3 linked regions of the Homo sapiens genome follow. The protein of the gene in region 3 interacts with the protein of the main gene of each other region in a biochemical or structural test. Each region holds a gene or a part of one and is shown on either strand. Other genes may lie near its edges. The genes, in order: SWSAP1, ZSWIM7 and XRCC3.

Region 1 (6,839 bases), on a different chromosome or scaffold from region 3:
TCCCATTCAGGAGGGTGGTGACAGCAGCCCTGGCCTTGCACCAACCCCCATACTGGGATAGATGATCTTAGAGAACACAGGCTGGCTTGTACCTGTTTGGGATTGGCTGGGCGTGGTGGCTCACGCCTGTAATCCCAGCACTTTGGGAGGCCGAGCCAGGCGGATCACTTGAGGTCAGGGGTTTGAGACCAGCCTGGCTAACATAGTGAAACACCATTACTACTAAAAATACAAAAAATTAGCTGAGCGTGGTGGTATGCGCCTGTAATCCCAGCTACTCAGGAGGCTGAGGCAGGAGAATCGCTTGAACCCAGGAGGCAGAGGTTGCAGTGAGCAGAGATCATGCCATTGCGCTCCAGCTTGGGCAACAAAAGCGAAACTCCAGCTCAAAAAAAAAAAAAAAAATGAAAGCCTTCTCAGCTGGGCACAAGTGGCTCATTCCTGTAATCCCAACACTATGGGAGGTCTAGGTAGGAGGATTGCTTGAACCCAGGAGTTTGAGATCAGCCTAGGCAATGTAGCAAGACCCTGCTCTCTAAAAAGTAAAGCGTTTAGGCCTGGAGCAGTGGCTCACGCCTGTAATCCCAGCACTCAGAGAGGCTGAGGTGGCAGATCACCTGAGGTCAGGAGTTCAAGACCAGATTGGCCAACATAGTGAAACCCCATCTCTACTACAATTACAAAAATTAGCCAGGAGTGGCAGCATGCGCCTGTAATCCCAGCTACTCAGGAGGCTGAGGCAGGAAAATCACTTGAACCCGGGAGGCGGAGGTTGCAGTGAGTCCAGATCGCACCATTGCACTCCAGCCTGGGTGACAGTGCGAGACTCGGTCTCAAAAAATAAAAAAACGACAACAACGACAACAAAAATCAAAAGCCTTCTCAACATGCCCCTGTGGGTCTCACAGCATCTCAATCTCAAGTTGACTAAAACAGAGCTCTCTGATTTAGAATGTCACAACACAACTATCCCAGGCACAGAGCTCTCTCCTGTCTCCTCATGACTCGAGTAAAAGCCAACTTTCTCCCAATGCCTCAGGGCCCTTGCACTGAATGAATTCTCCACCTAGAATGTTCTTCCCCTGCATATTTGCACAGTTCACACCCTGACCTCTCTCAGGCCTTTTCTCAAATGTCGCCTTCCCAGCCTGACCCAACCACCCTATTCAAAATTGAAAAAACAACTGGCCCTTCCTTCTAACTTCCCTTCCTTGTGCAAATTTCTTTTCTTTTTTTTTCTTTTGAGATGGAGTCTTGCTCTGTCACCCAGGCTGGAATGCAATGGTGCGATCTCAGCTCACTGCAACCTCCACCTCCTGGGTTCAAGTGATTCTCCTGCCTCAGCCTCCTGAGTAGCTGTGATTACAGGCGCCCCACCCCGCCCAGCTAATTTGTGTATTTTTAGTAGAGATGGGGTTTCACCATGTTGGTCAGGCTGGCCTCAAACTCCCGACATCAGGTGATCCGCCCGCCTCAGCCTCCCAAAGTGCTTGGATTACAGGGGTGAGTCGCCGTGCCCGGTCCCTTGTGCAAATGTCTTTTTGCCTATGCTTGTCATGTGCTCACAGTGTTTCAATTCCTCGTGATGCTCAGTGGGTCTTTATAGGTCTCCCTCACTCGGATGTCGCTCCACCAGGACAGAGATTTGATCTGTTGTCTGTTCACTGTGGGGTCTACAGTTACTAGAATGGGCCCTGATACATAGTAGATACTATTGCTTGAGGATGCCAGTAAACTAAGGATAGGCACAGAGTGACCCCAAGCCACCTAGTTCCTACCCTGTAGCCCCAGGTCCAACCCTACCTGCAGGCAGGTACATTCCTCCATGATTCTCCTCTATGGTAAATCTTCTTCTGTCAAGATGTGAAGACAGGCCAGACACAGTGGCTCATGCCTATAATCCTGGCACTCTGGGAGGCCAAGACAGGCGGATCATCTGAGGTCAGGAGTTTGAGACCAGCCTCGCCAACATGGTGAAACCCCATCTCTACTGAAAGAAATACAAAAGAAAAAAAAATAAGCTGGGCATAGTGGTGTGTACCTGTAATCCAAGCTACCCGGAAGGCTGAGGCAGGAGAATTGCCGGAACCCGGGAGGTAGAGGCTGCAGTGAGCCGAGATCGCGCCACTGCACTCCAACCTGGGTGACAGAGCGAGACTCCGTCTCGAAAAAACAAAACAACACAACAACAATAACAACAAAAACAGATAATCAGTTAAAGAGTGAAATGTGTGCAATTTTGGGCAGGCAGTCAGGGGAAGCCTCTCTGAGTAGATGATATTTTGACCAAAGACCTAAAAAGAGTGGAGGGAAAAAAAAGTCGGCTGGACTCGGTGGCTCACACCTGTAATCCCAGCACTTTGGGAGGCCAAGGCGGGCAGATCACCTGAGGTCAGAAGTTTGAGACCAGTCTGACCAACACGGAGAAACCCCGTCTGTACCAAAAATACAAAATCAGCCGGGCGTGGTGGTACATGCCTGTAATCCCAGCTACTTGGGAGGCTGAGGCAGGAAAATCACTTGAACCTGGGAGACGGAGGTTGTGATGAGCCAAGATTGCACCATTGCACTCCAGCCTGGGCAACAAGAGCAAAACTCCATCTCAAAAAAAAAAAAAAAAAAAAAAGCCAGAAGGATATCTGGAAGCTGACTGCTGCACACACAAGAACATCAAGTGCAAAGGACTTGTGGTGAGGCTGTATTCAGCATGCTCCCATGTATGTAACTGTGCTGGACTCTGTGATGTGGGTGTCACTACTGAGTATTTGTGCATTTTTGTTTGTTTTTGTTGAGATAGGGTCTCGCTATGTTGCCCAGGCTGGAGTGCAGTGGCACAATCACTGCTCACTGCAGCTTTGACTTCCTTGGGCTCAAGCAATCCTCCTGCCTCAGACTCCCAAGGAGCTGGGACTACAGGTGCACGCCACCACACCTGGCTAAATTTTTTTTTTTTTTTTTGAGACAGAGTCTCGCTCTGTCGCCCAGGCTGGAGTGCAGTGGCGCGATCTCGGCTCACTGCAAGCTCCATCTCCCGGGTTCACGCCATTCTTCTGCCTCAGCCTCCCAAGCAGCTGAGACTACAGGCGCCTGCCACCATGCCTGGCTAATTTTTTTTTCTATTTTTAGTAGAGGCTGGGTTTCACCGTGTTAGCCAGGATGGTCTTGATCTCCTGACCTTGTGATCTGCCCACCTCGGCCTCCCAAAGTGCTGGGATTACAGGCGTGAGCCACCGCGCCCGGCCAACACCTGGCTAATTTTGAAGTATTTTGTAGAGATGGGGGTCTCCCTACATTGCCCAGGCTGGTCTTGAACTCTTGGCCTCAGGCAATCCTCTTGCCTTGGCCTCCCAAAGCACTGGGACTACAGACATAAGCCACCACACCTGGCCTGTATGTGCATTTGGAGTGTTGAAATGTGAGGTGAATCATGCGTTGTATATCTGCTGGGGGATGGGGGCTGAGGTGGCGTGTTTGACAGCGCAGTGTATCGGTGTGCTTCACTGTGTGTGTCTGTGTGTGTAGTGGCAATGTCATAGTTGCGTGTTTTGCAAGAGAAAGGGTGTGGGGGATGAATGTGGGACAGAGTTTGTATGGGATGCTTTGTGTCAGGATAGGGCAAGGTTGGAGCATGTGGATGATGGGGATTCTGAAAGTAGAATATATTCAGAGATGCCATGGTGTGTGTGTGTGTGTGTGTGTGTGTGTAGAGGGGTGTGAGTGAGCCCAGCTGTGTGAGTGGGTGTGTTGGGGGATGTCGTGGAGCTGTTTTCTGGTCCCAGAGGGAGAGAGAAAGCCCAGGAAATCTCACTTTCTCCCTGCCCCTGGGTCTCCAGGCAACGGCACCACTTTGGAGTTACCAGGAGACAAGGTTGCCAGGGCAACACAGGCGTGAGTGGCAGCTCTGGGGCGAAGTCTGGGTGAGAAGATCCAGCCAGGGATCACGATCATTCACTTTGTTCCTCCCTTTCTCCCTGTTTCTCATCAATCCCACCTCCCTTCCTTCATTGTCTTAACGAGCACGTATTTGAGAACCTACAAATGTGCTAGGTGCTATTCTCGGTACTGGAGAACAGAAGTGAACAAGACAATGTCCCTGCTGTATCTCTCCTTCAGTCTTCCAGCTCCTGTCTCTTTATCTCTCCTGCTTCCTTCTTTGTCCTGCGGTCCTGCCTTCCCCCCGTACCACAAAGGCGGCCCCACAGAACCCCTTAGCCAGTGAGGAAGTAAGTTGAGAGGCTTCATCTCACAGACTTTCGGGGATGGCCGTTGATGTTTTGTCCACGAGCCTGTGTCCCCAGACACACACTCCGGCCCATACTCAGGTGCACAGAAAGACAAGCACACAGCTCATCCCCCTCTCCAAAACTCTCAGTTGTCATTGGATGACATCAGCAAAACCACACACAAATACATGCCGATCACAATACTCCTCTGAGATATCATAAGCCCCATTTTACAGCAGGGCAAACTGAGGCTAGGAGCCTTTAAATAATATGTCACTCATTCTGGTCTACTCCTCCAACTTTCAACCCTTATATTTGTCTGATTAGCTGACAATAATAGTATTCGTGCTGGTTCCCCCAGCAGCCTCCCTCAGGGAAGGGTCTTATTTCCCTCGAATGCACCCATTCCTCCGCATAGGTTCTAACCATTTGCCCATTCACCTGAGGAATCGAGTTTTGATGGACAGATTCCTAGACCAATAGAGAAACTAAGTGAACTGTACCGATGCGGCCACGGCTTGGGCGGGACTAAGGCTGGGAACGAGCCACCGATTGGTCAGAGCTACGCGGCGAATGGCGGAGACGCTGAGGCGGGTGCTAACCAGGGGCGGTGCGGCCTGGTCCGGGGAGGAGAACATGCCTGCCGCCGGACCGCCTTTGCTGCTGCTCGGTACACCAGGATCTGGAAAAACAGCGCTGCTATTTGCTGCGGCCCTAGAGGCGGCGGGGGAGGGCCAAGGCCCAGTCCTCTTCCTGACACGAAGGCCTCTTCAAAGCATGCCCCGCGGGACCGGAACGACTCTAGACCCAATGCGACTCCAGGTAACCGTGGGGGTGGGAGCAGAGGCGTTCTAGCCAATGGTGGAGTAGATCCGGGATATTGAGTAACAGGTAGACAAGCCAATGGAGAGGACGGTGGAAGAGCGAGCCAGGGCAGCCACGATGGGGCGGAGTCAGGCAGGCGGAGTGAGGAGTGGCACCACGCGGAGCTTAGTTAAGATTGAAGTGAGAGCCCATCCAATGATGGGCGGTGTTAGCAAGAGGCGGTGCCCAGAGATTGAAGTCCGGCCCATCAAGGGGCGGGGCTAAGCTTGGGTCCATTCTGGACCTGAGTTGGTTCCTGTTAGTGTCAAGGATGGGGTCAGACCGAGAATGCTGGGGGAGGGTTTTCCGTGGAAAAATTGCGCTAGAGATTTGGCCAAAAACAAACAAGCAAAAATGGCTTGCCCTCAACTAATACTCGGCAGTGATGAGTGCTGGAAAAACGGGCGAATATAAGAATATTTAACAGCTCTGAACTGGTTCATCCTGGAACCAAGGAAAGTATGCAAGGAGGCAGGGTTACTTTTAAGGAGTCTGGCTTCCTGTGCTGAATCCGGCCCTTTCCTTCTGTTTCTCCTTCTAGAAGATCCGCTTCCAGTACCCACCCTCAACCCGAGAGCTTTTCCGGCTCCTGTGCTCTGCCCATGAGGCCCCGGGGCCAGCCCCCTCCCTTCTGCTGCTCGACGGCCTAGAAGAGTACCTAGCGGAAGACCCAGAGCCCCAGGAAGCCGCCTACCTCATTGCCTTACTTCTAGACACAGCTGCCCACTTCAGCCACCGGCTTGGGCCTGGCCGGGATTGTGGGCTCATGGTGGCCCTCCAGACCCAGGAGGAAGCAGGTAGTGGGGACGTCCTGCACCTGGCACTGCTCCAGCGGTATTTTCCTGCCCAGTGCTGGCTGCAGCCAGATGCACCAGGTCCAGGAGAGCACGGCCTCCGAGCCTGCCTGGAGCCAGGCGGGCTGGGCCCCAGAACAGAGTGGTGGGTGACTTTCCGATCAGATGGAGAAATGATGATCGCTCCGTGGCCCACCCAGGCTGGTGACCCCAGCTCAGGCAAGGGTTCAAGCTCTGGAGGCCAGCCCTGAGCTTTGGTGGGTGACTACCTCTCTGTGCTTCAGTTTCCCATGGCTGGAATACTTACCTCAGGGACATATGCAGATCCAAAGACCTAAACAATGTAAAGTGCTTTTTCTCTTTTAAAAGTATAGCATTATCTTGTATATATTTTACCCAATCAATATGTTGTTTATAGTTTCATTGCTTTAAACTTTATAAAAAGAGCTTCAGGCCAGGCGTGGTGGCTCACGCCTGTAATCCCAGCACTTTGGGAGGCTGAGGCGGTCAGATCACCAGAGGTCAGGAGTTGGAGACCAGCCTGCCCAACATGATGAAACCCTGTATCAACTAAAAGTACAAAAAAAATTAGCTGGGTGTGGTGGCAGGTGCCTGTAGTCTCAGCTACTCAGGAGGCTTAGGCAGGAGAATTGCTTGAACCCAGGAAGCGGAGGTTGCAGTGAGCCGAGATTGTGCCACTACACTCCAGCCTGGGTGACAAAGCGAGACTCCATCTCAAAAAAAAAAAAAAAAAAAAGTTTGAGACTTCCTTCTTTTTGCACTCAACGTTGTTACTAAGATTCATCTACATTTTTTTAGTTCATTCCTTTTTCCATATTGCATATAATTCCATGGGTGACTATACCCTGATTTCTTCATCAGATTGCCTTATTTACTGCTGCGAACATTCTTGCACACATGCCCTGGTACGTGTGTGTGTTTTTAGGGGCCGAGACAG
Region 2 (7,105 bases), on a different chromosome or scaffold from region 3:
AGCCAGCGTGTCTGGCCTTTTTGTTTGTTTGTTTTTTGTTTTTTGAGACAAAGTCTCTCTCTGTCACCCAGGCAGGCTGGATTCCAGTGGTGCAATCATGGCTCACTGCAGCCTGAACCCCCTGGGCTCAAGTGATCCTCCCACCACCTCAGCCTCCCTAGCAGCCGGGACTACAGGTATATACCACCACATCCAGTTAATTTTTTGATTTTGTGGAGACAGGGTCTCCCTGTGCTGCCTAAGCTGGTCTCAAACTCCCAGCCCCAAGCGATCCTCATATTACAGGCGTGATCCACCATGCCTGGCCAAAATTTAATTTTTTGAAAAGGCAATAAACCGGCCAGGCGCGGTGGCTCACACCTGTAATCCCAGCACTTTGGGAGGCCGAGGAAGGTGGCTCACGAGGTCAGCAGATCGAGACCATCCTGGCTAACACGGTGAAACCCCGTCTCTACTAAAAATACAAAAAATTAGCTGGGCACGGTAGCAGGCACCTGTAGTCCCAGCTACTTGGGAGACCGAGGCAGGAGAATGGTGTGAACCCGGGAGGCGGAGCTTGCAGTGAGCCGGGATCGCGCCACTGCACTCTAGCCTGGGTGACAGAGCGAAACTCTGTCTCAAAAAAAAAAAAAAAAAAGCAATAAACCAAAATTTAAGAGTGATTATTACTGGGTGGTATGATTATTGATGCTTTTTATAGGTTTTATTTTCCAATAAAAGTTTTTTATAAGTGTGGGTTATTATTATTATTATTATTATTACTGAGTTGGAGTCTCACTGTGTTGCCCAGGTTGGAGTGCAGTGGCACGACCTCTGCTCACTGCAACCTCCACCTCCCAGATTCAAGTGATTCTCCTGCTTTAGCCTCCCGAGTAGCTGGGATTACAGGCGCATCCCACCTCCCAAGGTGCTGGGATTACAGGCATGAGCTACCACACCCGGCCTAAGTGTGGGTTATTTTTATAAACTAGAAAATAAAATGGCAGGGTTAAACTCAAACTGAAAAGTTAATGTTTTAAAGAACTTATATGACTTAACACAGAGTAAGACAAACCTAGTAAGGCTTCAAAATTAAAATGTTCAACTTCTTACTTCATTTTCCAACAAACCAGCCACATATACAACAAATTATTGGGGGAAATAGAAAAGAGTGCTTTGAATTTTTATATTAAACATATGAAGATTTAGTCTATAAAATAACAAAATACAAAAAACAATGAAATAAAATTTGTCGGGAACCTTACCAATCAATCTCAACAGTTACCTTTAAGAATTTTTTTAAGGCCAGGTGTGGTGGCTCATGCCTGTAATCCCAGCACCTTGGGAGGCCAAGGCAGGCGGAACTCCTGACCTCATCATCCACCTGCCTCGGTGTGTGCCACCTGTAGTCCCAGCTACTCAGGAGGCTGAGGCAGGAGAATCACTGGAACCTGGGAGGCAGAGGCTGCAGTGAGTTGAGATCGCGCCACTGTACTCCAGCCTCAGTGACAGAGTGAGACACTGTCTGAAAAAAAAAAGAATTTTTTTAACCTGCTCTGTCCACTTTAATACCTACTGTGAACATCTCTTGAATGCATTAAAAATTTTTCCATATCACTTTTAATGGTTACAAATAATTCTACTGTAAAGATGAATCATTTTTATTCTCCTCAAACTCCATGAATTGTTAGATTGTTTCTATGTTTTATTGCTACCATAAACAATACTGGATATTCATCACACTGAGAATATCCTCACTGTAAAATCTTTACAAACATCTATAATTACTTCCTGGGTATATGTTCTTTTATGTGGAATTTCTGGGTCAAAGAATATGTATGTTTTAAAGTTCCTATTGCCTGTTACCCTGCAATTTACATTCCTGTTATAAATGACCCCTTTCCCCATATTTGTGTCAACTTCTTTTCTGTGGTCACTAATTTTCTAGATGAAAAGTTATGTTATGTTAATTTGTATTTTTGTGGTCACTAGTAAGATTTGTCTTTTTCCTCCCAAAGGATTCGGCTATTTACATCTTTTATTCTTTGCCCTTTTGTTTTTAAAGTAGTACATTTTTTTCCAGTAATATTTAATTCTTATTAAAAATTTAAGAAATACAGTAAAGGTTAAGGCCGTTCCCTCAATTCTACCTCCTTCCTTGCCCCAAAGAAAAAACACTGGTAGAGCTTGGTATATATTCTTCAGAACTTTTATTTTTTTAGAGACAAGGTCTCACATCACCCAGGCTGGAGTGTAGTGGCACAATCATAGCTCACTGCAGCCTGGAACTTCAGGGCTCAAACAGTCCTCCTGGGACAGGTTTTGTTTTTTTTTGTTTGTTTTGTTTTGTTTTGTTTTTTTTTTGAGACAGAGTCTTGCCTCTGTCACCCAGGCTGGAGTGCAATGGCATGATCTCAGCTCACTGCAACCTCTGTCTCCTGGGTTCAAGCGATTCTCCTGCCTCAGCCCCCCGAATAGCTGGGATTACAGGTGCCTGCCACCATGCCCGGCTAATTTTTGTATTTTTAGTAGAGACGGGGTTTCACCATGTTGGTCAGGCTGGTCTCGAACTCCTGACCTCAGGTGATCCACCCGCCTCAGCCTCCCAAAGCGTTGGGATTACAGGCGTGAGCCACCGCACCTGGCCAGGATTTTTAAATGTAAGTGTGTATCAGTAATTAAGTATTACTTATACCTAGGTAGCTTTTACTTTTTTGGTCTCTGCATTTTTAAAATAACTGACCACTCTATATTATTCTCATTTAAGTAGTTGTATCAACTGCAAATAATGATAATTGTCTTTCCTTGCAGATAGGTACATTTGTAATTTCTTTTTCATGTGTTAGTTGAACAGCTACGCTTTTTTTTTTTTTTTTTGAGATAGAGTTTCGCTTTTATTGCCCAGGCTGGAGTGCAATGGCATGATCTTGGCTCACAGCAACCTCTGCCTCCCAGGTTCAAGCAATTCTCCTGACTCAGCCTCCCGAATAGCTGGGATTACAGGAATGCACCACCATGCTTGGCTAATTTTGTATTTTTAATAGTGACAGGGTTTCTCCATGTTGGTCAGGCTGGTCTTGTATTCCTGACCTCAGGTGATTCGCCCGTCTCGGCCTCCCAAAATGCTGCGATTACAGGCGTGAGCCATTGCGCCCGGCCAACAGCCACAATTTTTAAAACAATGTTAAATAAGAGTGGCAAATATGACAATACTGGATATGGTGTTGGCTATTCAATTGAGACAAATTTTTAAGAATCATGTCAAGAAAATATTATTCCTAGTTTCTAAGAGTATTTTTTATTTTTTATTTTTTTTGAGATGGAATTTTGCTCGTTACTTAGGCTGGAGTGCAATGGCACAATCGCAGCGAGATATGCAACCACAACCTCCCGGGTTCAAGCAATTCTCCTGCCTTAGCCTCCCAAGTAGCTGAGATTACAGGTGTGTGCCACCACATCCCACTACTTTTGTATTTTTAGTAGAGACAGGGTTTCACCATGTTGGTCAGGCTGGTCTTGAACTCCTGACCTCAAGTGATCCACCCACCTCAGTCTCTCAAAGTGCTGGGATTGCAGGTGTGAGCCACGGTGCCTGGCCTTTTATTCTATTTTTAAAATTATTTTCGTAGAGATGGGGGGTCTCCCTATTTTGCTAGAGCTGGTCTCGAACTCCTGGGCTCAAGCAATCCTCCTGCCTTTGCCTCCCAAAGTGCTGAGATTACATGTGTGAGTCACAGTGCCTGGTAGTAAGAATATTTTTATTTTTTATTTTATTTATTTATTTATTTATTTATTTATTTATTTTTGAGACAGAGTCTCACTCTGTCCCCAGGCTGAAGTGCAGTGGCATGATCTTGGCTCACTGCAACCTCCACCTCCCAGGTTCAAGTGATTCTCCTGCCTTAGCCTCCTGAGTAGCTGGGACTACAGGTGCCCACCACCACGTCCAGCTAATTTTTTGTATTTTCAGTAGAGATGGGGTTTCACCATGTTGGCCAGGATGGTCTTGATCTCCTGACTTCATGATCCACTCACCTTGGCCTCCCAAAGTGCTGGGATTATAGGCGTGAGCCACTGCGCCCGGTCAAGAGTATTTTTAAAAATCAAGAGTTGATGTTGAAAGGATTTTAACATTAATGGTTAAAAAAAAATCAAATACAACAGTATATGTACTTACGATAACAGATATTCATCAGGAACTGTAAAATGAGAATGGAAAAAAAAAGTTAATCATATTAAGCAGTGACCATTGACATAAAAATCTTAAAAAACACTGTAACTAAAAACACTTCCGTGTGTGATGGTCAACTGAACCTATGCATCTGGTTTTACTCCTTCCCCAAACCCCACTAAAACCATAATAAAAGGATTTCCTTTTTCTTTTTTTGAGACGGAGTCTTGTCCTGTCACCCAGGCTGGAGTGCAATGGTGCAATCTCAGCTCACTGCAACCTCCGCCTCCCGGGTTTAAACCATTCTCTTGCCTCAGCCTCCCAGGTAGCTGGGACTACAGGCATGCACTACCATGCCCAGCTAATTTTTTTTGGTATGTTTAGTAGAGATGGGGTTTCACCATGCTGGCCATGCTGGTCTTGAACTCCTCACCTCAAGTGATCCACTGGCCTTGGCCTCCCAAAGTGCTGGGATTATAGACATGAGCCACCGTGCCCGGCCAGATTTGTTTTTAAAAGTATGAATTCCAAAGGATGAGAAAGACAGGGAGAAACAACAGCCATGATACATTGGAAGCTGATAGAAGAGTGGAAAATGATTTATAAGACCTAAGAAAACTGAATCCTAGGCCAGCAATGGGGAGAGTCAAGCACCAGCCTGAGTTACACTCCAAAATCCACCTCTCCCCTTCCCCAAACCCTAACGAATTGGTGGCACCAAATAGCTTCATTAGGGGTGAAACAGGGATATGAAAATAAGACTCTTTTCGAGTACGTTTGAGAAGTAGTGGGACCCCAGTTCCCTCCACAGCTTTAGGTGACTGCCTTTCCCTCATTCTGGCAAGAGACTAGGTTTATTTTCTGGAGAGGTTCAAACACAGGCTATTTGGACTAGGGAAAAATACTAGGTACAGTGAAAGTCAGGGTGTCACACTGAAAACAGGATCTCCTGCTCTCTTCCCTAACATGGCTCCCATAACACAAGCAATCAGGCCTTCACACTTCAGCCAGGAGACTGGAAGTCTTCCCTAGGTATACCCCAAGAGAAGTGGGAATGACACTGAAATGGTTTCCCCAACTAAATAGCCTACTGAGAACAACTATAGTGACGTTCATATTCCGTAAGCCCCTCTACCACCCAGAGCTTCCAATATACTTTTTAGTCTTCCACTCTGAAATATGACTAGACAGCCAAGGGTTACCAGACAACAAAGGAAAAAGGAAATAGAATAAAACAAACAGAAGAAAGTTAGAGGAAAAACTGCAGAAAGGAGAAAATTTTAAACATCTATTACTAATATTTTATCATCAGAAAAAAGTTAATGCAATCATAAAACAGGCACAAAAACAGGCAGAAGGCATAATAAGAAGAAAAAGGGAATCTTCTGAAAAAAAGTTATAAATTAAAAATACATGGTATGTCTCTGTAGTTTCAGTTACTTGGGAAGCTGAGGCAGGAAGATTGCTTGAAACCAGGAGTCTGAGGCCAGCCTGGGCAACACAGTAAGACCCCGTCTCTCTTTTTTTTTTTTTTGAGACGGAGTTTCGCTCTTGTTGCCCAGGCTGGAGTACAATGACGCAATCTCGGCTTACCGCAACCTCCACTTCCCGGGTTCAAGCAATTCTCCTGCCTCAGCCTACAGAGTAGCTGGGATTACAGGCATGCACCACCACGCCCAGCTAATTTTTTTAGTAGAGACGGGGTTTCTCCATGTTGATCAGGCTGGTCTCGAACTCCCGACTTCAGATGATCTGCCCACCTTGGCCTCCCAAAGTGCTGGGATTACAGGCATGAGCCACTGTGGCCGGCAAGACCCTGTCTCTTAAAAAAAAAAAAAAAAAAAAAAGACAGCAGAAATTCAACAGAAAATCTGGAAGATAAAGTTCAAGAAAGTTCCCAGGAAGTAGAGAAAATATAAAAGCAACACAGAAGCCACAGTAAGTCAACCAGAAGGACAACAGAGGACATCCAGTAACTTAATTACAGAAATACCGGAAAGAACAGAGAAAACAGATGGAGGGAATTCATCAATCAAATAATTCAAAATTCCCCACAGCTGAAGGACATGAATTTCTAGCTTGAAAGGGCCCACTGTGTGCCCACACTGTGAAGTGAAAAAAAAAAAACTTTATCAGAAGATTCAGAACACTGGTTATGAAGAAAACATAATTCAAACTTCCAGAGAAAAAAAAGGTCACATACAAAAATCAGGAGTAACACTAGAAGCTAAGATGTAGTGGAAAAATGTTTTCAGATGTCTGAAGAAATATTATTTCCAACAAATAATTCAATACCTAGACAAACAATCACTTAAGTGTAAGGGCAGAAAAAGAACTTTTTCAGCCGGGCGCGATGGTCAGCCTGACTAACATTTAGTATCTCTACTAAAAATAGAAAAACTATTAGCCGGGCATGGTGGCGCATGCCTGTAATCCCAGCTACTCGAGAGACTGAGGCAGGAGAATCCCTTGAACCCAGGAGGCAGAGGGTGCGGTGAGCAGAGATTGCACCATTGCACTCCAGCCTGGGCAACAAGAGCGAAACTCCGTCTCAAAAAAAACCCAAAAAAACAAAAAAACCCCACAACTTTTTCAGACATAAGCCTCAAACAGGGGCCGGTGTGGGGGCTCACAACTATAATCCCAGCACTTTGGGAGGCCAAGGCAGAAGGATCGCCTGAGCCCAGGAGTTCCAGAGTAGCCTGGGCAACAAAGGAAGACCCGTCTCTACAGAAAATAAAATAATCAGCTGGGCATGAGGTGTGATTGCGCAACTGTACTCTAGCCTGGGGAACAGAGTGAGACCCGGTCTCAAAAAATAGAAAAGAAAGCCTCAAAAGGTACATCTCATGCCCCCTTCTTCAGGAAGCTGGCAGAGTCTGTGTGCCATAATATAAGGTAGTAAGCCTGGGCAACACAGTGAAACCCCGTCTCTACAAACAATACAAAAACTAG
Region 3 (7,692 bases):
CGCGGTGGGGTGTGTGAGAGAGGACATCAACTTCACCTCTGAGAGACAAAATCTACTTGCATCTCAGGGACTAGAAACACGTGCGTTACTATCAGTTTTCTACAATTTGAAGCTGTCAGACAGTTTGAAGACGGTGACAGGTGCAGACACTATGATCACAGCCTGGGAGGGTTATGCTACAGGCGGCCTGGCCTCCCACAGGACGCCCAGGAATCCTTTTTTGTGGCTTCAAAGTCTCAGTTTTACCTAACATCAGTAACAGCTCTCCAGCCTGGGTGACACAGCAACACCTTGTCTCAAAAAAGAAAAAGCTCTTAGCCAGCCACAGGGACCCTTGAGGAGCTCGCTGGTGTCCCTGGCAGTATCTCATGAGGCTGCTGGTTCCCAGAACACCTGTGGAGGCTCTGGCAGCCCCTGGCACCTCACAGGGGTGAGCTTTACCCAAGCGCTGAGATCCTGGAAACAATTATGAAACCCCCCACCCTGCAGTGTGCTGGGAAAGCCTTCCACCGAGAACCACCCTCCCCATACGAGCCAGAGGAGATCACAGATGCCCCCCTTGCTTACCTGCAGCAAGGCCCTCCAAATTCCCATTCTCTGCCTCAGAAAACACTGGCCATTTCTCCTCATGATCAACTGGAACACAATTCCCTTACCTGGACTTTTTTTTTTTTTTTTTTGAGACAGAGTCTTGCTCTGTCACCCAGGCTGAAGTGCAGTGGCACAATCTTGGCTCATTGCAACCTCCTCTTCCCGGTTCAAGTGATTCTCCTGCCTCAGCCTCCTGAGCTGGGATACAGGCACACACCACCACGCCCGACTAATTTTTGAATTTTTATTATTTATTTATTTATTTTGAGACGGAGTCTCGCTTGGTCGCCCAGGCTGGAGTGCAGCTGCACGATCTCAGCTCACTGCAACCTCCACTTCCTGGGTTCAAGTGATTCTCCTGTCTCAGCCTCCCAAGTAGCTGGAATTACAGGCACTCATCACCACGCCCAGCTAATTTTTGTATTCTGGCCTCAGCTCTCTGATCTGCTGGAGGTCCTGACCCTCCACTGGCCCATCCCACCTCCCCAGCTTGATTCTTTCTAGCCTTGGCCACTCCTCCCTGCAAAAGAAAAGCCCTGTCCGGCCTGGCCTGTGAGACCCTCGCAGAACTCAGGGTCCCCTGTTCTCCCCGCTGCACAGCTCCAGACGCCTCTAGCAACAGTCCTCACTTCAGATCTCTCCTCATCCGAGTCCAGGCTCGTGATCAGACGCGCACGTGCTCTCTCCTTCCTGGCTCTGAATCTAGAGTATCCATCAAAGTGTCAACCCGCCAGCATGGAGCTGCGGTCATTCTTCTGCCAGCACCACGGATGGGAGGTGGGAGGGGTGCACAGCGGCAAGGATTTTAAGGATAAAACTCAGGATCTCAGCTGCTTGTGACAAGCCCAGATGGCTGCACGCCCGGACCGCCCACCCCCAAGCCCACTGCCTTGCGTCAGTGTCGGATATTTGATGGCAGAGTCAGACAAGCCCCAGAGATCATCTGAAGCTTCCTTCACACCCCCAAAGCACCTCTATCCAAAGTGGTGTCGCACGAAGCTTTACACGCCGCCTCTGCCTCCCCTGCCCCACAGGTTCCTGAGGAGGCACAGACTGGAGAAACGATTCTCAACTGGTTCTGCGTCAGAGCCTTGAGAATCTGAGAGCTGCAGGCCACCTCTCGGAGAAAGGTGCATGTGTGCACATGCTCCCCAGGGGGTTTTGCAGCATTTTAAAGGGATAACCCTCATGGGCCCAAACTGATAAACCAGCCCGGTCAGGCAGCTGGTATTCGGGAGACGGGCACTGGGCTGGATTCAGACTCCCCTGGCTAAGAACAGAGCTGGAATGAAAATGGACCAACACGTTTACAGATATGACGATGATGCCGATCGGCACACGGCCACCAAGCCAAGGACAATGTTACCCACCTGCCAAGTTCTACCAAATTCTCCTCTCCCCATTCCAAACCACCTCAAATAAACCTATTTCCCACAACTGGTTATCTGCACATTTGAGTCACCTCCCGACAATCACCTTAGCGGCCCCAAGCACGCAGCCAGCACAGTGTAGCTCAGTGTCCCCTTCAGCATCACCACATGCCAGGCGACTGTTACCGTACATGTCCCCTCGAGCTATTGCACCTAAAGCTGGACTTTATTCCAAATCTTCCAGCCCTTACTGCCCCGTTCTAAGTTCCTCCAGAACACTGTCTTTGGTCGTTTCTGGCCTGTAAGACCATGCTCCAATACAATTCACAACGCAAAACTCAGAGACAAAGTCCATCTTATTAGAATGGTTTCTCTGTCCCCCAAGCCCACCCAATGCTAGGACCTCCCTCAGCTGCTCAGATCCCAGTTAATCATCCAAACATGGTGGGGGGCTCTGGAGGGGTATCCTGCCACCACGCCAGCGTGGGAATGAATCTTCTCTTCCACGAGGGGTGCCACCTTGACTCAAGTGTTTCAACTCCACTCAGTCGGAAGTCACCGCGGGACTGCCACACAGTGCCTCAGCAGAGGCCACAAAGAAAGGCAGGGAAAAATGCTAAACAATTCAGCTGATACCAGAAGGGCTCTGGAAGAGAGAATGAAGGAGGGGAACACAGTGGTTCACTATAAAACAGAACCGTAAGATCAGTGCATGTGTACAGCAGGGAGAAAGAAATTGTGCTTTGGTGGAAACCTCTGCCTCATCTTGGCCACACTTTCTCACGTGCTCCTTACGGTTCATACAGACGTAGAGTATTTCTGTGCTATTAAGAGTTCGTTACACCATAAATACAATTTTCACGTGTCAACTTAAAAGTAAATTTTAAAAAAGATGAAGGAGGATGATTGGCGGAAAGTGTCTAAAAAGACTCCTCATGGTGGCGATACTGGGGAGAGGTGGGCAGCACTGGTCTCAACTCTCCAGGACACGCTCAGTGACCGGTGATGGCTCCGTACACTGTAGATGCCAGAGACACTTCCCCAGAGTCACTCGAATTCCGTCCTGTCCCCGAGGCTCTGTGGCCGCTCACCCCCCACCAGGCCTCCAACCAAGCTTCAATGAACCCAGTCAATTAGTGCTACTTTGACTTCTTGAACCTAGTTCCAACGTCTGCTTAGTTCTATCACTGAGGGAATTAAACGAATCTGTAACACGTGTTAAGTATGAAAGTCATATTACAAAAATTCTTTTTCTCCCCCAATTTTTTTTTTATCGTGGTAAAATCCACAGAACAGAAACTGGACACACCTGTTAGCGCACAGCCAGTGGGATTAAATGCACTCGGGGCCTTCCCAGTTGGCCAAGGGGCTGGTGTGAGGCAAAGGCACCTCCGATCAGGTCACAGGGAACCCCACGGGAGGCCCAGCGGATGGCCTGGCTCAGGGACCCCACGCCCACGCCCCAATGTCTGCAGGAGTGGCCTGGGCAACTCCTGCCGTGTCTGGGCCCATGGGAAACGGGTGCAAATCTGCGGTCTCCTTCAAACTGTCCAGTGGGCGACTGCGACCTCGCTTCCGAGGTGGAGGGTGGTATAGACGAAGGGAAACGGGGGGCAGCCTGGCCCGCAGACTGGGTCCTGGCCCTCCTTCCGAGCAGGAGGTGGCTTCGGAACCGGCCACCCGCCCGCGGCACCGACGCCTCCCCCGGTTCCCGGGAGGGACCCCTGCGGGGCCGCCAGCTCCAGCGCTTCCGCGGACAGCACGCGCCCTCCCCACCGAGCCTGCGAGGAAGGCGCTCCGCCTTCCACTTTCTCGGGAGCGAGCCCCAGCTCTCGGGACGCAGTCCACACGCGCTAGCCCAGCACGAACCGGCCTCGGGCAGGGCCGCACCCACCCCCGGGACCAGCCCGCGCCCCGCACCCCGCCTCCCGGCGCCCGCCCTGGACAGGTGCCTCCTGCCCTCCCGGGACCCCCGCACCGGGACACCGCGCGCCTCCCGCCCTCCCCGCGGGCGTAGGAGCCTGAGGCGGCGGCCCGGGGACGCGGCCAACCTGGGAGAGAGCGGGGGCGGGGGCCGGCTGGGGAAGGGGCCGCCCGGAGGCGGAGGGGTCGTCGCGGGAGCCTGGAAGCCCGCGGGGCCGGGCCGGGGCGGCGGGGCGGGTCGGAGGCGCTGGCCGGGGCGACGGCCACCCACCTCCTTGTCCGGGACCCACTGCGGCTCCTCCAGGCCGAACGGGCTTCCGAAGGCGCGGTGTTCGGGCACCATGCGCAGGCCGCTCGGGGAGCGCACCAGCTTCTTGGCGTCGCGGCGCGCGGACACCTCGGAGGACATGACGCCGCCTCAGCCTCTCGGCCAGCGGCCCCGCACCCGGCCCCTCGCCCAGCCCGGGGCACCGCCCGCCCCGCCCCGGTCCGCGCGCGGCTGACAGCGCCGGCGTCCAATCGCCAAGCCCGCCACGGAGCGCGGACTAATCGGAGCTTGAACTCCGCCCCATCGCTGCCCTCTCCAATCCGTGTAAGGGCACCGCCCCTGCAACCCTGAGGTCGATCACCAATCGGCGGCGAGGGCTGGCCCGGGTACGCTCCGCCCCTCTCAGGGAGATTGAGACTTTGGATTGGTTAGTTAGTCAGTCACGTTAGCGCCGCTTCGTCTCTGATTGGTGTAGCCCACTCAGGGTGCTAGGCGCCTATTGGAGGAGAAGGCCGAGAGGAGCAGGACGGCGGGAAGAGGAGTGCGGAACCCGCGGGAGGTGAGGCCCGCCGAGCCGGGCTGCGAGCCGGGCTGCGAGCCGGGCGGCAGCGGGGTCGGAGGTCGTGGGCGGCAGCGGGCGTGAGGGGTGAGGCAGGGTCAAGGGGCGGGGGCGGCCGCGGGTCTCCATTGCCCGAGCCTGTGGGAGCAGGCGGGCCTGGGGCTGCAGCACTCACCCCGGGAGCCCCGCCGCAGCTCGGGTAGCGTTCAGGCACCTCGCCGGGGCCGGGCCGCGTGCGTTCGGAGCGGGGAAGGCGGTCTCCGGGGCCCCCGGTGCGCGCGGGGAGGCGTCCGCTCAGGGGAGGCCGAGGTGGGCCCGCGGCTGCGCCCCCGGCCTTCGATGCCTTCGCTCGTCCGCCTGGGACCGCGCTGGCTTCGCATCGAAGTGGGAGAGGTCTGAACAGTTATTTTAATACTTTGATTTGGAAAGAAAATCCTTTAGGCCGGGCGCGGTGGCTCACGCCTGTAATCCGAGCACTTTGGGAGGCCGAGGCGGGCGGATCACGAGGTCAGGAGTTCAAGACCAGCCTGGCCAACATGGTGAAACCCCGTCTCTACTAAAAATACAAAAATTAGCTGGGTGTGGTGGCACGTGCCTGTAATCCCAGCTGCTTGGGAGGCTGAGGCAGGAGAATTGTTTGAACCAGGACCCGGGAGGCGGAGGTTGCAGTGAGCCGAGATCACATTACTGCACTCCAGCCTGGGCTACAGAAAAAGACTCCATCTCAGAAAGCACACAAAAAAAAGAAGAAAATGTTTGTTCATCCTGCCTTTAATTCCTTATTACAAGGCGTGAATTTTTATTGTTTTTTTTGAGACAGTCTGGCTCTGTCATCCGGGGTGGAGTGCAGTGGCGTCTTCACAGCTAGGCACAACCTCGACCTCCCAGGCTCTCAAGTAGCTGGGACCGCAAGCGCCACTACACTGGCCAGCTATTTTTCTTTTTTTTTTTTTTTTTCGGTAGAGAGTAGGTCTTGCTGTGTTGCCCAGGCTGGTCTTGAACTCCTGGGCTCAGGCGACCTTGGCCGCCTTGGCCTCCCACGGTGCTGGGATGACAGGCATCAGCAGTGTTGAAGCCTGTGAGGTGGGGTCCCTGTGGCTGACTCTGCCCTCTCCTGGGGCCATTGGCAGTGCAGGGGTCCTTGTGTGTGGAGGAAATAAGGAGATGATCAAAGTATGATTCCACGAATCACACGGTTTATTGTCAAAGAAGATTTGTTCTCGGGTTCACAGTGCTCAGAGGGGAGGAGAGGGGAGGAGGTGAAGACACCTGGCAGGGAAGCAGGGCCTCCATGGATGGGGTGCATTCACGGCAGGGAGGTGAGTGGCAGAACGGCCAGGGTCCGGTTGCTCTGCTGGGATGGAGCGGGCCCCTGGAGAGTGAGATCTGGTGAGAGTTCGAGGTTTGCCTTGGTAGCAGTGGAGAGCGTGAGAGCGGGAGCTCTCTGAGAAGCTGGGACCGAGGTCCAGCTCCCAGGCCAGCAGCGTATAGCTTGCCTCAAAGCATCTGCACAACCTTCAAGCTGATGTCTGTTTTTGCAGTCCAGCAGTCAGGGTCAGTAACTCACATAAGGGAGTGTCTGACAAGGTTTAAGTGGCATTCCCAAGGTTGCGGAGTTCACTCAAGTCCTCACATATGTGGTCTGATAAGACATCACACTCTTGCAGGGGGGTCAGGTCACCCCAAAACATCAGACTATGTAAGTGCTGTGAATCACTTCAAAGCTACACAGCAGGTCCCAGGGCCCAAGGCAGAGGAGTGAGTCCACCTCGGAAGGCTCAGAGCAGCTCCAGGCAGTAACCACGGCATTTCCAGAGTCTGGTGTGTGAGCCTAACAGCTCTGGTGTGACCGTCCGTACTCACCTAGCAGCACGTGACATCAGCTCTCCCCCTGAAGTCATTGCTCAGCTCGGGTGCTGCAGGAAGACATACAGGTCTGTCTTGGGCCAGCCCCTTGCCTGCTGTGGGCTGCTCCCTGTGTGTGGCCTTCACCCCGGTGTAGAGAGATGGGCTGGTCACACCCCTGCCCCTCACAGCGGCGAGAGGACAGAGGCATGTGCCGGGCTGTCTGTGGAGCTCCCAGGCCAGTGTCTGGGATGCGGCAGGTGCTTGGTGTTAAAGGGAAAATATTCCAGGATATCTGTGAAAGCACGTTAGGCAGAGACCAGGCTTTCATTCAGAACCTTTGAGAGATGTGGGAACCACCACACTGCGGTCTTGCAGTGGGAGAGAGGCTGGGCTCAGCTCTGAACAGGCCATGGGCTGGTGGCGGCTTACAGCTCCAGAGCTGGGCAGGGGCAGAGGATGGAAGGTTGCTAAGAGGAACCCCCAGGGGCGAAGGGGATGCAGGTTCAACTGACCTGCCAGATCAGGCCGCCCGGGGGACAGTGGAAGATGAGGCGCCTAATCAGCTGTCAAGGGTGATGGGACACGGGAGGAGGTCGTCACTAAACAGACTTTGAGCCAGGCCTGTTAAACCAAGTTCTCAGCAGGATGTGCACAGAGGGCCCAGGAGGAGCCTCAGGAGCCGGACTGCCGTTGGCCAACCGGTGAGTCTGTTATCCGTCAGTGGACACTCTGCTTCCAGGTGCCTTGGCCTCGGCCCGCGTCCTGAAGGCGGGAGACGTTGCAGCCACGTGCTGGCCTTCCCGGTGCTCCTGCCAGCGTCCCGCTGCTTGACACAGTCCAAGTTTTGTATCCAGACCCAGCCTGGGACAGCAGCCTCCCGACAGCCCCCAGGCCCAGCCTGTCTGTGACAGTCACGCCTGCTCAGGGAACCATCCCTCCGTGCAGATCTGGGCTGTGTTTTGGGTGGTACCTCGGGTGTGGGGTCCCCTACCAGGTGCGAGGTTCATACTCCCCAGGCTGCCTCCTGTCCTCAGGGCTTGGAGAGTCCCATGTTCTGAAAATGACCTCTTTTCGAGCCGGGCAAGGCCGCATCTCCTTTGGCAGTGTAGTGTCTTCCCTGGAGGTGGCATTCC

What was found.
Region 1: the proteins of XRCC3 (region 3) and SWSAP1 form a complex in vitro, tested with the Homo sapiens proteins (one study listed by BioGRID).
Region 2: the proteins of XRCC3 (region 3) and ZSWIM7 form a complex in vitro, tested with the Homo sapiens proteins (one study listed by BioGRID).

Annotation. Positions count from the first base shown.
Region 1 is NC_000019.10:11,369,885-11,376,723, forward strand, and holds SWSAP1 (ATPase SWSAP1), read left to right. Parts: upstream 1-4,781; 5' UTR 4,782-4,796; coding exon 4,797-5,045; intron 5,046-5,628; coding exon 5,629-6,132; 3' UTR 6,133-6,285; downstream 6,286-6,839. UniProt on the Homo sapiens protein: ATPase which is preferentially stimulated by single-stranded DNA and is involved in homologous recombination repair (HRR). Has a DNA-binding activity which is independent of its ATPase activity.
Region 2 is NC_000017.11:15,989,601-15,996,705, forward strand, and holds part of ZSWIM7 (zinc finger SWIM domain-containing protein 7), read right to left. Parts: intron 4,179-7,105; coding exon 4,157-4,178; intron 1-4,156. UniProt on the Homo sapiens protein: Involved in early stages of the homologous recombination repair (HRR) pathway of double-stranded DNA breaks arising during DNA replication or induced by DNA-damaging agents. Required for meiotic progression, hence for fertility.
Region 3 is NC_000014.9:103,712,443-103,720,134, reverse strand, and holds the start of XRCC3 (DNA repair protein XRCC3), read left to right. Parts: upstream 1-4,683; 5' UTR 4,684-4,711; exon of another isoform or gene 4,712-4,798; intron 4,799-4,812; exon of another isoform or gene 4,813-5,104; intron 5,105-7,166; exon of another isoform or gene 7,167-7,203; 5' UTR 7,204-7,260; intron 7,261-7,692. Other genes in the region: ZFYVE21 (zinc finger FYVE domain-containing protein 21), read right to left, coding at 4,156-4,293. UniProt on the Homo sapiens protein: Involved in the homologous recombination repair (HRR) pathway of double-stranded DNA, thought to repair chromosomal fragmentation, translocations and deletions. Part of the RAD51 paralog protein complex CX3 which acts in the BRCA1-BRCA2-dependent HR pathway.